2 separate regions of the Homo sapiens genome follow, and region 2 is linked to region 1. Evidence: fine-mapped expression QTL. A gene starts in region 1. The other region holds a variant in brackets. All regions are shown on one strand. Distances are between the middles of the regions.

Evidence for each region. PIP is the estimated chance that this variant, and not a neighbour inherited with it, causes the effect.
Region 2: its variant is the best candidate, but not a certain one, in a credible set for the expression of FAM120A in whole blood (TOPMed, PIP 0.52).

Annotation. Positions count from the first base shown.
Region 1 is chr9:93,447,156-93,455,489 of GRCh38, forward strand. It overlaps FAM120A (family with sequence similarity 120 member A), which reads left to right and starts at 4,530. Exons shown (of 18, transcript NM_014612.5): 1 at 4,530-5,234. The coding sequence starts at 4,761. It overlaps FAM120AOS (family with sequence similarity 120 member A opposite strand), which reads right to left and starts at 6,426. Exons shown (of 3, transcript NM_198841.4): 1 at 4,992-6,426; 2 at 3,324-3,444; 3 at 1-542. The coding sequence starts at 5,554. The coding sequence ends at 456. RefSeq lists enhancers at 4,010-4,559, 6,139-6,268, 6,332-6,626 and silencers at 4,140-4,669, 4,810-4,939, 5,240-5,419.
Region 2 is chr9:93,633,900-93,642,233 of GRCh38, forward strand. PHF2 (PHD finger protein 2) reads left to right here. Exons shown (of 22, transcript NM_005392.4): 3 at 2,512-2,626. Among named protein-coding and RNA genes, the nearest start is that of MIR548AU, 43 kb to the left of the region's middle. RefSeq lists an enhancer at 1,569-2,298. The variant G/GT (reference allele first, on the strand shown) is at 3,264.

The DNA of each region.
Region 1 (8,334 bases):
GTTGCAGGAGGGTTTATAGGGTACTTAGTTACACAGGTCACACTGATCCCCTTTTCCTCTTTTTTTCTATGCAAGTATCTATTTGTCTATATGTCTGTCTACCTTGGTAGGTTGGGCTCCTTGAAGAAGGGTTATGTTTTCTTCATCTCCATATCCCCAGTAGCTGGCCAATGCCCAGTATACACCAGGGGCTCAGTCGCTGTTTGTCTTATTTTCTTGTTGACTCTACTCTGACTTAGGACATATCACTTTCCTCTCTTGACCTTCACATTCAGATGTGTTAATAAAAGTGGATAAAGACCACTCTAGCTTTAAAACACCCTCCAATATAGAGAGAACTCTGAAACCAGAAGCAGAAGCTGAGGAATGGTGAATAGAGCATTTTCCCTCACACGATGGGTATCAGGGTGGTTTCTTGTCCTTTCAATGCCTCTGCAGAACTTGACCCTAGTTTTTCAAATTGGACTCAAGAATGATCTTAGTGTTGGTGGTTTTGTGGTTTTCTTTGAGACTTTGTTATTGACAGAACAGCTTCTGGAAATCTGAAAAGAAAAAAAAAAAGGTAGTTTATATATTAGTTTGGAATATGAAATGTATTTTGTCATGGTCTCCAGAGTCCGAATATTGATCTCTGTGGAGCTCTCCTACCCTCTGCTACTGCTGATAACTCATAGTACTGGAGAGATAGCAGAGCCTGAAGACCAAAAAACTCAACTGCCGATACACGGCTGCAGTGTGGTCAGTTACTGATCTACCATTTATGAAGCAGGCCTACAGATGTGTGTGTTCTTCTGGGTAATTTAAATTGACAATTAATTAACAGGGCTGGTGCTAGGTAAACATTATAGGTTAGAATCCCTAGTGTGGATTAATTTGCTCTCTTCCATGATCGCAGACTCCCTGCTTAGCTCCAGTCTGCTGGTCTCCCAACATCTGCTAATGATTACATGGGCAGCATTAAGGTCTCTTATTACCTTGTTTGAAAAACTGGAAACTCATCTGTTATTGTTGGTGGTTAGATACCTCACCTAAGTAAAATATTAATTAATGATATTAGGCTGGGCGCGGTAGCTCATGCCTGTAATCCCTGCACTTTGGGAGGCAGAGGCAAGTGGATCACTTGAAGTCAGGAGTTCGAGACTGGCCTGGCCAACATGGTGAAACCCCGTCTCTACTAAAAATACAAAACTTAGCCAGGTGTGATGGTGTGTACCTGTAATCCCAGCTACTCCAGAGGCTGAGGCAGGAGATCACTTGAACCTGGGAGAGGGAGGTTGCAGTGAGCTGAGAACACATCATTGTACTCCAGCCTGGGCAACAGAGCAAGACTCCATCTTGGGGGAGAAAAAATAAATAAAATAAATACAAAATAAAAAAAGAAAAAGTCCCCAACCATTAGTTGTCATATTGTAACCTCCAAGAAGACATAACTTTTTATTAAATTTTAAATACAGATGTTTATTTTTTATTTTTTATTTTTAAGATGGAGTCTCGCTCTGTTGCCCAGGCTAGAATGCAGTGGCGTGATCTCGGCTCACTGCAAGCTCCGCCTCCTGGGTTCACGCCATTCTCCTGCCTCAGCCTCCTGAGTAGCTGGGACTATAGGCGCCTGCCACCACGCCCGGCTAATTTTTTTTTGTATTTTTTTTAGTAGAGACGGAGTTTCACCGTGTTAGCCAGGATGGTCTGGATTTCCTGACCTTGTGATCCGCCCACCTCAGCCTCCCAAAGTGCTGGGATTACAGGCGTGAGCCACTGCGCCCGGCCCAGATGTTTATTTTTACCTCAATATTTAAGCAATTTAACTTCAACCAACCCCTGAATTTGAGTTAAGGATGCAGAGTATATAAGTGTTTGTCAGCTAAACATTTTGCCCACCATCAATAGCTACTCAATAAATAAAGTTTTTTTTTTTTTTTTTTAAAGAACACAAAGCTAAATAGGGCAACTAAGAATTGAGTTTTATGTGTTATGATACAATAATGAATTTTAAACTTTCCAAAAGTACAATAACTGGTCTATGTTCTCGAGTATAAGTCTAGACAAATACAGTTTCTGGAAATAACTACAAAAGCCAACATTTATTGAGCATTTGTTGTGTGGCAGGCACACAGGTTATCTGATTTAATCCTTATAACAACCTGGGAGGTTAAGTACTATTAATATGTTGATTTTACAGATGATAAAATCCAAGGTTCAATAAGGTAAATATTTTTGCAAGGGCACAGACTTATCATAAGATGGATATTGGGGGCCTGACTCCAGAACCTTAGACCTCTACAATATAATAAGGTGAAAATAAATTTATTTCCAGAATTCCAGATACTGGCACTGGCATTTTTTTTTTTTTTTTTTTTTGAGATGGAGCCTCGCTCTGTTGCCAGTCTGGAGTGCAGTGGCGTGATCACTGCAACCTCCACCTCCCAGGTTCAAGCAATTCTCCTGCCTCAGCCTCCCGAGTAGCTGGGACTACAGGTGCGCACCACCACGCTCGGCTAATTTTTGTGTTTTTAGTAGAGATGGGGTTTTACCATGTTGGCTAGGATGGTCTCCATCTCTTGACCTCGTGATCTGCCCGCCTCGGCCTCCCAACGTGCTGGGATTACAGGCGTGAGCCACCACGCCCGGCCGCACTAATGCATTTTTAAAAATTAAAAGCAAGAGTGTTTAAAGAAAAGGTAAATACACGGAATGCAATGCTACAAATGAAAATACGAGTGATTAAAAACTACTACTCCTCACCTTGTGAACCTGCCTTGGGTTATAAAAGCAAATTTGGATATTTCTGGATTTTGCTCGTTATTTAATGGCTAACTGTATTATTTCTTTTATTTATTTATTTATTTTTGAGACGGAATCTCGCTTTTTGCCCAGGCTAGAGAGTGCAGTGGTGCCATCTCCGCTGACTGCAACCTCCGCCTCCCGGGTTCAACCAATTCTCCTGCCTCAGCCTCCCAAGTAGCTGGGATTACAGGCGCACACACCACCAGGCCCGCCTAATTTTTGCATTTTTAGTAGAGACGGGGTTTCACCATGTTGGCCAGGCTGGTCTCGAACTCCTGATCTCAAATGATTCACCCGCCTCGGCCTCCCAAAATGCTGGGATTACAGGCGTGAGCCACCGCACCTGGCCTGTATTATTTTTAGATAACATGTCATCCTGGCTTTGTGACTAATTTTATGCATAGGTGAGTGGCATAACTTGTCAGCCTGCTTTTAAATGTAACTTCCTAAAATACCAGCAGCATTTAATTTATGTACGTATGATACTGGCTTGCATTTGAGGTGGGTATCAGAAAAGAAAGCAGAAAAATCCAACTTGCCTTTTTCACCGGGAGTATGGGGGCTTCTTTGGCCAAACCGTGCGCGTGCAGGCTCCATGTGCTGGGCAGCAGCTGTCCGGCCACAGCCTGTCGGTTGCATCCTGCTCCTCTACAGAGGTTTCTCCAAAAAAAGAACAAATGGAGAGATGAAGGTAAGTAAAAGCGGCACTTTAAAACTTTTAGAGTGCTGGGTTTCTAAATTTATATTCTGAAAGACATTAATCTCTTTTTGAAAATGTTTTATGCAAGCCTAATATACATACAGTATCAACCTCATTTTAGAAGCAGTTACGACAGAGCTTTGGAACAGAATTTACGTAAACGACCTCCTTCCAGAAGATGCTACTAAAGCAACAAGATTCAAATCCCTCTCCCTCAGAAGAGCTGGGAGATCCACTGCAAAGGCGCACGTTTCAGTCTAGCCATTGCGCAGTGGTAACGCAGGCTTTCCCACGCTGCAACAGACCTGTGCTCTCAAGACAGTCTCTTCCGTGACGAGCAGGCGCTTAGGGCTACCTGTACCTTCAGACATTATGGTGTGTTTGGCCATGTCATTTGTCATAGGTGTAAAAACCACAACCGAGAGCCCGAAGCTGCTGGGATGAGCACCTGCCGCGGAACTGCATTCTCGCGCTCCTTCCTGCTCTTTCCAAGAAGCCAGGCGCGGCCGGCCAGCATCCCGCTCTCCCGGACCCCGCAGTCAGTGTGGGCAGCAGGCCCAGAGTGGTGCGAGCCGACGGCGGCGTTAGAAAGGCGGCGTCCCGACGAACAGAGTGACTCGGCCTCGGCTCCCCTTCAAAGCGCCATCTTATCGCTGCTTCCCTCAGGAGCAGGCGAGCTCTTCCCCAGGACCTGCTTCGCGGCTTCCCTTCGCCCGAGAACCACCGGGCGGAGGCGGCGGCCTCTCTGGCCCTGCCGGGAACAGGGCGCAGGGGAGGGGAGCGGCGGCCGACCGGCCTGAGGCGGGCGAACGGCCTCTGGCCTCCAGGCGCTGCCTGCTCCGGCTCAGAAGCCTCCCGGATCCCGTCCCGGCCCAACTCCGGGCCTCCGCCTCCGCCGCCGCCTCCGGGAGCCCCGAGCCGCGTCCCGCCGGCGCCGCCTCTTCCGCCTGCTAGCCGGCGGGCCTGGGCGGCGTCCGCGCCGGGCGGGTCCGCTACGTCAGCGCCGCCCGCCCGCCCCGCCCCGGCCCTCAGCCTCGGCCTCGGCCTCGGCCTCGCAGCGGCGGCAGCGGCGGCGGCGGCAGGTCCCTCCCCAGACATGGCCCTGGGAGGCGGCAGCACATGGCGGCCGCGGCGGCCATGAGCGCGCCCCCGACCCGCCCCAGTCCCCCCTAGAGGCCGCCGCCCCCGCCCGCCAGCCCGCCCGCGCGCCACGGCCCCACCACCCCCGGCCCCGCCGCCCCCCGCCCGCACCCGCGCCCGCGCCCCCGCCGCCGCCATGGGCGTGCAGGGCTTCCAGGACTACATCGAGAAGCACTGCCCGAGCGCCGTGGTGCCGGTGGAGCTGCAGAAGCTGGCCCGGGGCAGCCTGGTGGGCGGCGGGCGGCAGCGGCCCCCGCAGACCCCGCTGCGCCTGCTGGTGGACGCCGACAACTGCCTGCACCGCCTCTACGGCGGCTTCTACACCGACTGGGTCAGCGGCGGCCAGTGGAACCACATGCTTGGCTACCTGGCGGCGCTGGCCAAGGCCTGCTTCGGCGGCAACATCGAGCTCTTCGTCTTCTTCAACGGCGCGCTCGAGAAGGCCCGGCTGCACGAGTGGGTCAAGCGGCAGGGCAACGAGCGCCAGACGGCACAGCAGATCGTCAGCCATGTCCAGAACAAGGGCACCCCGCCGCCAAAGGTCTGGTTCCTGCCGCCCGTCTGCATGGCCCACTGCATCCGCCTGGCGCTCATCCGCTTCCACGTCAAGGTGAGGCCGGGGATCCGGGCGGGCCGGGGACCGGGGCCGCGCCGCACCCCTATCCCCCTTCCCAGGGCGCAGAATGTCGCCCGGCCGTGGCGGCGCTGGGGGCAGCGAGTTCCCCCAGCCCTTGCCCGGGATAGCCTGGCCGGGCCGGGCTGCAAGATGGATGGCCGCGGGTGCAGGCCGCGCGCTGCCCAAGCCCGTCTCCAGCTGTCCCTGTTCGGGGTCCGCGGCCGCGTGGGGACACTTGAGGGCTGGGAGAGAGCCCCGGACCAGAATTCGGAGGCGACAGTGTCATCATCCCCAATATCCTTAGTTTTTCCCATCCTATTTGAGGCGGGCAGGCTATCACTCACCTTCAACTTTGACAAAATACTCCCTTTTCTAATTTAGCCTGTTCTTTCCCAGCAACAGGTTCATCTTGGAAGCAGGCAGGATACAGAGTAATAGAGGGGGTTTCGCCAGAGCCCTTGGGGGCTGCAAATATCAGTGCTGCTGCCGCCGCCCTTGCCAATGTTGTTAGCCCGGTGACAGCGAGACGTGTCTAAGGGCCAGTGCCCTGGCCTCTACTTCAGAACGCAGTGCCCTGTCCGTGTTCCTCTTAGTACAGGGTGTTTAGAGAATCTTTCTATGGCTTTTTGTGTTAGATTTCAAAGACCCGTGCACTTTGACAGGATGGGATTTTGTCAGTTCTGTGACTTCACGTCCGTGTGAAAGAGGTCTTTAAGGCAGTTCGGTTTTGTAGATCCCATGCGAAAGGAGTCGCTCAAAATCAGGGGGCGAACTACGCGGGCGTGAACTCGCAGGATTTATTTTTCGGGTGCACAGTAAGTATTCAGTGACCTTCAGCGGTGCCCTGACGGGTGGGTAATCAGAGCTCTATATCACCGGCCTCCTCTGGCCCTTTGGCAGAGGGCTTCGCAGCTGGCACTGGGCCAGAGGAGAACTTCAGGACCCAGCAGTGACTGTGAAGATAAGCACATCCATGATCCTGGACTTCACGTTCTGATTGCTTGCTTTTTTCATTGGTTTTCTTGAAAACAAATTTTGGGGGCCTTTTTGTTGTCTTAGCTCTTGACACTCGGTCTTCCATCTTGTCATTTGACATTTCCTTGAAACTGCTGGAGCTGAAAGTTTGTGAAATTCTGTCTTCGCGGTTGCCCCCACTGCCCGCGAGGAGATGGTGGTAGTTAAGCCTAAAATGATAGCGGAAGTCCCACCCACGATCCGGTTGCAATTGGTGAGATGGTGTTTAAGTCGTGGGTGGAGGCGGCCGGCAGAGTCCCGATTGGCCCCTGCGCCTGGCAGACACACAGCTGCCATTCCTCAGGGAAGTTCGGGTGAGAGGAAGTGCCTGCCTTTTAATTTCTGAATCGGAGCCTGGGGCGCTCAGGGAAGTAAGGTGCTGCCATTTGTCTGAAGCGATCCATCTCCCTAATAGAGCGTAAAAGTGTTCATAGTTTAGTCTTGTTCAGAGATGGAAAAGACTACTTAAAAGACAGGATGAGCTGCACTGACTTGCCTTTGGTAACCGCACAGCTCTCTACTTAACTAGTCAAGCGACTTTCAAGGGAACACTGTGAATATTACTTAGGATTAGAATCAGTATGTATGCATATGGTCACTGTATCTTTAAAGAACTGTTGAGTTCTTTTTAATTCTACAGTTTCTTTATCTTTGCACCCCTTTGAATGCCTCGCACACCTAGTAGGTGCTCAGAATTCAGACCAATGTGTCAGTGTTAGGAAACTAGATTTAAGCTCCATTTAAGATCGTCTTTTTCACTTAGGTTTCTGGACACGGGATAATGGGATAATTTTGTCTGTATTTTGCTTTTGCTAAGCTTTTAATTATTGACCTAGGGTCATATTATAGTGCGAATTGCACAAAATGAATATTGTAATAACTCAATTACTTGGTGGTCTCTTAGCTGGCAACCTTACCTTTTTGAAAAGTGCCTAAGAGATTTAGCTACTAGAAATTTCTCAGCAACCAAGCAAGATGTCAGGAAGTTTGGGTACAGTGATGTGGGGGGTTGGCGGGTGTAGGGGGGTGCTTTTGCTTTCCTCACTGAAGAATCCTTTAAGCTCTCTCACTCATGGACTGGCCTCTTTTCATATGTAATTCTAACAAGCTTGGTTATCTATTTTCTAAACTCAGCTTGAGAAGAGGATGAAGAGGAGAGTCTGCCAGAGGCAGGAGCACCATTAATAGCAAGAAGTGACAAGAGAGATTTAAAAAGCTATAAAAAGCAAACATAATTCTGGGGCTATTTTAAGAAAAGGAAAACAACCCTATGTACTTCCTTGGTCCCTGAGGGTAGTACAATGTTTATTCTATAAGGATGATTTTGAGTCATAAAAATTAATATTCAGCATTCTCTGTTTAAGGGATTGAAACAGTGTATACCATTTAATAAAAGATACCCATAAAGTGGTTAAAACGTTTAAAACCATGATATCACTACATGCCTATTAGAATGGCTAAAAGAGAAAAAAATATGAGCAATACCAAGTGCTAGCAAGAATGCTGAGCAACTGGATCCTTACACATTGCTTGTGGGAATGCAGAATGGCACCACCACTCCAGAAAACAGTGGCACTTTCTTATAAAGTTAAACATACATTTATCATACGATCCAGCAATTCCACTCCTGGGTATTTTCCTAATGAAGACTTTTGTTTGTGCAAAAACTGGTACTCAAATGTCCATAGCAGCTTAATTCATAATAGCCCAAACGTGGAAACAAAGTATCCTTTAATAAGTGAATGGTTAAACTACAGTATAGCCATACTATGGAATACTACTTAGCAATAATAAGGAAGGAATTGCTGGTGTAGGTAACAACTTGCATGAATATTTAATTAAGGTTTTATACTGAGTGAAAGAAGCCAGGTTCAAAAGGGATGATTATAAAACTATAGTGATAGGGACCAATTCAGTGGTGCTGAGAGTAGAGGAGGGGAAGGATGTACACATAAAGGGGACAGCAGGAGAGATCTTTGTGGAGTGATGGAACTGTTCTGTATTCTGATGGTGGTGATGCTACCATACATTAAAATCAGAACTATTCATCCAAAGTAAATGTGTTAATTTTATCATATGA
Region 2 (8,334 bases), 190 kb after region 1:
TCCTCAGCCAGCCCTGAGGCCTCTCCCAGCTGCAATGTCACTGCTGCTGCATAACCACGGGGCTGCCTCACGCTCCTGCCTGAGCCGCCGCTGTCCTGGACCTTCATTGCAGCCTCTCCTTGGAGCCCAGCCCACACTCGGTGTTCCTCGCAGGTGGTGACCTAAGGGCAGGCAGGGAGCTCTGCTTGGTGCAGAAAGCTCAGCTCTGGAAGTTTCCTCCCTAGGTCCCACTTGGCTCCCCCATGGAGTAGATATAACTGCCTCCATTTCCACAAGGCCTTCCAAGGCAGGGAAGGCACTTTGTGAACTCTGGAGCCCCTTGCTCCCTTGATATCCACACCTCCCCAGGTAGTAGCAGGCCCAGCAGGAGGGTGATGGTATTCACAGTCACTGAGGCTTAGGATTGTTGGGGGGTCAGGAGGGTCTGGGCTGTCACTGGGGGTGTCTTTTTTCCAACTCCTTTACCCTCTGGGCTGAACATCTCAGCACACACACCTCTAGGGCCGGCCTTGGCCCCCTTCCCATCTCAGCTCTTAAGAAGCAGGGGCTCCCAAGCATCTATCGCTTGGGTAACACCTGCTCCAGCACCCCCAGCCTTGCACGGAGCCAAGATACTCAGTGAGTGCTTGCAAACTGCAACAGGAGGGCAGGTTGGAGCTATCTATGGCCCTGGCATTGCCTGGCTCAGGCTGGCACCAAGAGGGCAGGAGCATGGGCTGAACTGAGCCTTCTCTGTTGATAGTTATGAAGGCAGATGCATCCACCTCTCCTTCCAAGTTGCTCTGAAGCTGAGCAGCCAGTGTGACAAGGATGGGAGACTTCATCTGCTCGCAGACACTCCCCCTGTGCCCACTGTGTGCTGGGCCCAGTACTGGGCATAGGGGACACACAGGGATGAGCCCAGGGTCTGTTAGGAGCACCAAGCCAGCCTGTGAGTGTGTTCTGCCCGTGAACAAGCACCTACCGCACCAGGTGGCTTTGCCCTGAGAAAAGGCCCAGCAGAGTCTGGAGCAGACAGTGTGCATGTGCCAACCTACATCCCACAGCCACCCCACAAGGCCCGTGTGAGCCTTTCTCTAGTAAAGACGAGGCACAGAGCTGTCAAGTAATTTGCCCAAGGTCACACAGCTGGAAGAGGATTGGCCAAAACAGATTTGAACCCTGTTTGTTGCTCATCTGTGCCCGATGCTTCCCTCAGAAGTCCTGGCTTCTGGCCTTGACTCTGTCGGATTTTGCCAAGTTTCCATAATGTCCACTTGAATTGTGGGCAGGGAGATTGAACACAATGCGAAGATTCTTTGCAAATAAAAGGTCCCAGCCCCACCCAGCCCTTCTCCTTCGTGTTGGTAGCAGATCCTGCTCAGAGACAGGCATTGTCACTGGGTGGTCATTAGCTCCCTTTGTCCCCACAACCACCGAGACTCAGGAGGATGACACATGGCCTTCTAAGGCCCCCATCCCCTGCGCCCCCCACCTTGCCTTTGTCTGTGAAGGAAGGGCACAATACGGGCCCTGCCTGGCTCTGCTCTTGAATTCAGTCCCTTCACTGCTCAAGGGTCAGCCTGTGTCAGACTCAGCCAAGCAGCCCCCGAGGAGGGCATCTCCAGGCCCCAGTGGCCTCCCTTACCCCAGCTGCTCTTCTCTGCCTGGTTGAATACAAGGCTGGGAGCTAGGGACTTAGCGGGGTGGAGAGGAAATTGCTTCCCTCCCCTTAGGGACTTGAAGTCCAGTAGAGGTGTGTGTGTGCGCATAGGGCTTGTGGTCCAGTAGGGGTGTGTGCATGTATATGTACATATGTGTGTGCCTGCATTGTTGCATGGGCGCATAGTCCACTAGGAATGTGTGCACATGTGCTCACATGCACATGTAAAAAGTCCAAGGTGTGTGTACCTCGTGCCCCAGGAGAAGGTGTGACCTGGGCAGTGTGAGGAAGTAGGTGGGGTAGACAGGCCCAGGGTTGGCGGTGGTCAGGGGAGGGCTGGAGTGTGGCCAGCACAGAGGAGTGGGGATGTGCACCACCTGGGGAGGTGGGGAGGAGACGGAACAAGATGGTGGGACCTGACCTGCCCCTGTCTGTGGCTGTGGCAGTTGGGGTGATGGAGGTCCCAGTAGGGAAGTGACAGAGTCCAGCTGTGGAAGCCATGGGATGGTGAGGCCAAACCGTGGCTGAGGACCTTTTCAGGAGGTGGCTCTCTGGTGGTCTCTGCAGACTCAGGGCCTGAATGAGGAGGGGTCCTGGGAGACCCCAGCTTCTGGGTCAGGGAATGGAGGACACTGGTGCCATCCATGGTGAGGTGTGGGATGGGAGAGGACACGAGGTCGAGGTAGGGGGTTGACTCCTCCCTATGTGCATGGCAGGGTGGGGGTGTCATCAGTCTTGAGAGGTGAGCATGAGCCCAGCAATGCTGGGAGTTGTTAGTAGGCTGGGTGGGCCAAGGTTCTTAGGGGAAGTTGTGGAGCCCTGCTGGGGCTGCGCTGTGTGACCGACCTTGCTTCCGGTCTCCTCCACAGTAAAGAAGAAGCGGACCTGGCACAAACACGGCCCGGGGCAAGCGCCTGACGTCAAGCCCGTGCAGAATGGCAGCCAGCTCTTCATCAAGGAGCTGCGGAGCCGGACCTTTCCCAGGTGGGCTGGCCTTCCTGTATGCTCCACCACCTGCAGCCAGGGGATGCACACTCTCTCCGTCCCTTGTCCCGCTATCCATTGCTGGGGGCTTCCTTTGCTATCCTTGCTGGAAAGCAGGAAGCAGGAAGCCTGTCTCCTGGAGGCAGCATAGCCTGCACCAGCAACCCAAAGCTCCCTGCAAATGGGCCAACCTCTCCTTCCCTTGGTCAGCACTTCCCTGGGGGTGGGGGACAAGTATTGGTGACCTTTCTCCCGCTGGGTGGAAGGGACCTCTCTCCCAACCTGAGTATGCCCAGCACATGCCAGGTACTCTCCTGAGCCCTTGGCTCCCAGTCCTTCCTCTGCCCACAAGCATGCTCCCATGGCCCAGGCAGGCGTTGTCCTCATGTCTCCTTCTCAGAGACCCCCAGTGCCCACACTCTTTTTCTGCATGAGGGCAGAGGACAGAATTCTTGGCCACAGGAAGGACACAGCCGGGAGCGGCTCCTGGTGAGAAAGGAGCTGTTTAGGGGAGGCACCTCTGAGCTGCCCTGCAGCCGTTCATGAGCTGGAGTCAGTTTCTGTTTGTCACACAGCCTTTATTTCTCCCTCACTTTTGAAGGATAATTCCGCTGGACGCAGAATCCTAAGTTGGTGG[G/GT]TTTTTTTTCTTTTGACATTTTAAATTCCAACTCCCTTCTTGCATGTGTGATTTCTAATGCAAAATCCAATGGAACTCTTGTTCTGACCCTTCTCTGGGTAAGGTGTTTTTTTCCTGGCTTCTTTATTTTTTCTTTTCTGACCTTTATTGAGATAAAATACAAATAATACAGTTCACCCATTTAAAGTGTGCAGTTCGGTGGATTTTACTGTATTCACAGATATGTGCACATCACTGATTTTGGGACATTTTCATCACCCCCAAAATAAATCCCATAACCTTTATACATCATCCCTGTCTTCTCATCCCCCCTCCCAGCTGTCTTTAGCAACTACTAATCCACTTTCTTGTTTCTGTAGATTTGCTTCATATAAATGGAGTTCTACAACAAGACTGGCCTCTTTCATTTAGCAGAGTGTGTTCAAGGGTCGTCTGTGCTGTGGCATGTGTTAGCACCTCACTCCTTTTTTGAGGCTGAATGATATTTCATCGTATAGATATCCACATAGGTACTCTGTCTATCCATTCATCAGGTGATGGTCATTTGCGTTGTTTCCACTTTTTGTCTACTATGAATAATTGTGCCATAAACATTTTTATACAAGTTTTTATGTGGACATATGCTTTTATTGTTTTAGGAGTGGAATTGCTGGGTCATATGGTAACTCTCTGTTTAACTGTTTGAAGAACTGTCAGACTGTCTTCCAAAGCAGGTTCCCCGTTTTACCTTCCCACCAGCAGGGTATGAGGGTCTCGATTTCTTCACATCCTCACTAGAACTTGTTATTATCTGACTTAACTTGATTCTAGCCATGCGAGTGGGTATGAACTGGTATCTTATTTTTTGATTTTCATTTCTCTAGTGATTAGTGATGTTGAGCATCTTTTCATGAGCTTGTCGATCCTTGTATATCTTCCTTGGAAAAATGACTATTCAGGTCCTTTGCCCATTTTTAATTTTTTTGCTTTTTTTTTTGTTATTGAGTTTAAAAGTTTCATATATAGTACATTCTAGATACAAGCCCCATTACCTGATATATGATTTCAAAATACTCTCTCCTATTCTGTGGGTTGTCTTTTTACTTTCTTGATAGTGCCATTTGAAGTAGAAAAGTTTTTAATTTTGATAAAGTCCAATTAATCTATTTTTTGTTGTGCTTTTGTTGCATATCTGAGAATCCATTGCCAAATCCAAAGTCATGAAGATTTATTGATATATTTTCTTCTAAGAGTTTTGTAGTTTTAGCACATACAGTTTGTTCTTTGATACATTTTGAGCTTATTTTTGTATATGGTGTGAGGTAAGGATTGAACTTCATTTTTTTTGCATGCAGCTCTTCATTTGTCCCAGTACCATTGGTTGAAAAAACTATTCTTTTGCTAGTAAACAGTCTTGGCACCCTTATCAAACTCAATTGGCCATAGATGTGTTTGTTTCTGATATTCAATTCTATTCCACTAATCTATATCTCTGCTTATGCCAGTACCACACAGTCTTAATTACTATAGTAATTTATAGTAAGTTTTGAAATCAGGAAGTATAAGTCTTCCAAGTTTGTTCTTTTCTTTTTTTTGAGACGGAGTCTCACTCTGTCACCCAGGCTGGAGTACAGTAGCACGATCTTGGCTTACTGCAACCTCCACCTCCCGGGTTCAAGTGATTCTTCTGCCTCAGCCTCCTAAGTAGCTGGGACTACAGGCGTGCACTACCACGTCTGGCTAATTTTTTGTAGTTTTAGTAGAGACAGGGTTTCACCATGTTGGCCAGGATGGTCTCAAACTCCTGACCTTGTGATCTGCCCACCTCGGCCTCCCAAAGTGCTGGGATTACAAGCGTGAGCCACCATGCCTGGCCAAGTTTGTTTTTCTTTTTCAAGTTTGTTTTGATCATTCTAGGTCCCTTGTATGTCATTTGAATTTTAAGGTCAGCTTGTCAGTTTTTACAAGGAAGTCAGCTGGGATTTTGAAAGTAATTGCTTTCAATCTGTAGATCACTCTGCAGGTATTTCCATCTTAACAGTGTTAAAACCTCTAAGCTGTGAACATGGTTACTTTTCCATTTATTTTGATCTTTTAAGTTTCTTTCAAGAATTATTTATAGTTTTCAGAGTATAAGTTTTACATTTCCTCTGTTAAATATATTCTGAAGTATTTTATTCTTTTTGGTGCTTTTGTCAATAGAATCGTTTTCTTAATTTTCAGATTGTTCATTGATAGTGTGTAGAAATACAATTGATTTTTATATGTTGATCTTGTATCTTGCAACCCTGCTGAACTAGTTTATTAGTTCTAATAGTTTTTTTTTAGAGGGTTCCTTAGTATTTTATATATACATATGACCATGTCATTTGCAAATTGAGATAGTATGACTTATTCCTTTCCCATCTAGGTGACCTGTATTTATTTTTCTTACCTAATTGCTCTCCCAAGAACCTCCAATATCACCTTGAATAGAAGTGGCAAGGTGAGGGTGGTCAGGGCCCCCCTCAGCACTATCAGCATGCCACACCCAAGGGAGAGCTTCAGTTTCACTAGTCAGAGCTGGATGCAAGAAGGCAGCCCCCACCTCTTGGCATTACTTGCTGCAGACGTAAACTCAGCAACAGGCAGCTGGGGCAGAATGAGAAGTGGAAGTCCTGCTCTCCCAAGAAGAAAGCTCTCTAGCTGGGAGCCGGTGGGGACGAAGCCTGTGTTTTTGGCTGCAGCACTTGGGAGTGGAGTGTCCACCTCTGAGCTCTGAATGTGAATGGAGGGAGCAGTCTTGGTCCAAATATCACAGACTGTTCTTACTGAGTTTTTGGAGATTTTCTTAAATAGATGTTTCTTCATTTGCTGTTTGGTCTTGGGACCATTTCCAGAGGCTCTGAATAATTGTTTTTTAAATAATTTTCAGCATTTCATTGTCATGCTGGAAGTTGACCTCGCTCATCTGCCTTCTTTCAAGATAGTTGCTTGGTCTTTGGTTTTTTTTGCAGTTCAAATATGATATGCCTAGGTGCAGAATTTTTGGCATTTATCCTCCTTTATGTGGTCTAAGCTTTTTGGATCTTTGGTTTCATGTCTGCCATTAATTTTAGAAAATTCTCAGCCATTATTAATTCAAATAAATATTTATTCTACTGCATTTTCTCTTCCTTTTTATATTCTCAATATGCACATTAGGCTGTTTGTAGTTCTTCTTCTACATTTCTTGGATATTCTGCGCCTCCCCTTGACCCCCACCCACATGCTTCTTTGTTCTGCTTGGATTTCAGGTTGGAAGTTTTTATTGATATAACTTCAAGCTTACTGGTTCTTTTCTTGGCCATGTCTAGTCTACTGATGAGCCCATCAAAGGCATCCTTCATTTTTGCTACTTTTATTATTGTTTTTTAATTTCTAGCCTTTCCTTTTGACTCTGTCTTAATTTCCATTTCTCTGTTTACATTACCCATATGTTCTTACATGTTGTCAGCTTTTCCCATTAGTGTAGCTAACATACTAATCCTAGTTATTTTAAATTTCCTGTCTGATAATTCGGAAATCTGTGCTATGTCTGAGTCTTCTTCGGATGCTTGCTTTGTCTCTTCAGACTACAGTTTTTCTTGCCATTTAGCAGGCTTAAAATTTCTTGTGAAAGCTGGACACGATGTATTGTGTAATAGGAATTGAGGTAATTAGGATTTAGTGTGAGGTTTTATGTTAATCTGAGTAGGACCTGGGCTGTGTTAAATTTGCTATAGCTCTAGGTGCCAGAGATGTCAGCTTCTTCTAGTTTGTTTGTTTGTTTTTCTCCTGGTTTCTTTGGGTTTTCCTAAGAATTTCATGTTAAACAGAGTCTGTGTCTGCAGCTCTCTCAGTTATAGTCAGCTATTATTATACTGATGTATGGTGGTAGGTTTTGGGGAGGGGAAGTGTTCTATAATTTCAGGATTAAATCTCAGTTTTGTAGAGTCTCTGGGCTGTGATCATTAGGAGCATTTCTCAGCCTTTTTAATTTTTCTCTCCTTATCTGAGACAGGAAGGTTAGTGGGGGCTGGAGGTCGCCAAATGCTTTCCCCATGTCCAGTAGAGTCTGATACAGGGGAGCAGACTTTTGTTATGGAGAACAACACTCTGGATGTATTTAAAAATAGATTCTATTTCCATCCTTCTGCCGGATTAAGGAGTTTTTAACTCTTAAACTGATCTACACTTAACTTTTGGCAGTTTGACAAAAGTTATCACTTAAGTGTTCCTACAGGTCACTGCCTCCAGCAGCTTCCGCTTCAGGTAAGGCGATCTCAGCTATGATTTTCTGTCTCCTCAGATTTTGGGTGGTTGGTTGTTTGCCCTATGAGCTCAATTCTCTGATGAATATAAGAAAAGTTGTTGATTTTCTGTTTGTTCAGCCTTTTTCTTGTGGGGAAGAGGGGAGTGACAACATCCAAACTCTTCACATGTTGGAGCTGAAACCAGAAGAACAATTCCACATTATTTTAGCCACCTTAAATTCATTGGGTTATCTGTTGTTTTATTTTTGAGTTGTAAGAATTCTTTACATATTCTAGATACTTGTCCTTACCAGACACTTTCTGCCATTCTGTGTTGTCTTTGTAGTTTCTTGACAGCGTCATTTGAAGCACAAAAGTTTTTAATTTTAGTGAAGTCTAACTTACCTCTTTTTTCCTTTTATTGCTTGTGCTTTTGGTATCACTGCTGATAAATCATTGCCTAATCCAAGATCTTGAAGATTTATGCCTTTGTTTTCTTCTGTGAGTTTCATAGTTTAAGCTTTTATATTTAGGTCTTTGACTCATTTTGATTGAATTTTTGTATACTATCTGAGGTAGGAAGAACTTTATTCTTTTGCATATGGATATCAACTTTTCCTAGCAACATTTATTGAAAAGACTGGCCTCTCCCCATTGAACTGTTTTGGCACTCTCCTTGAAAAGCAGTTGATTGTGGGTGTTAAGGATTTATTTCTGGGCACTTAAGTGTATTCCATTCCTCTGTATATCTTTTCTTATGACAGTACCACCGTCTTGACTGTAGGAGCTTCGTATTGAATTTTGAGGTTGGGAAGGGTCTTCCAGCATTGTTCTTTTAA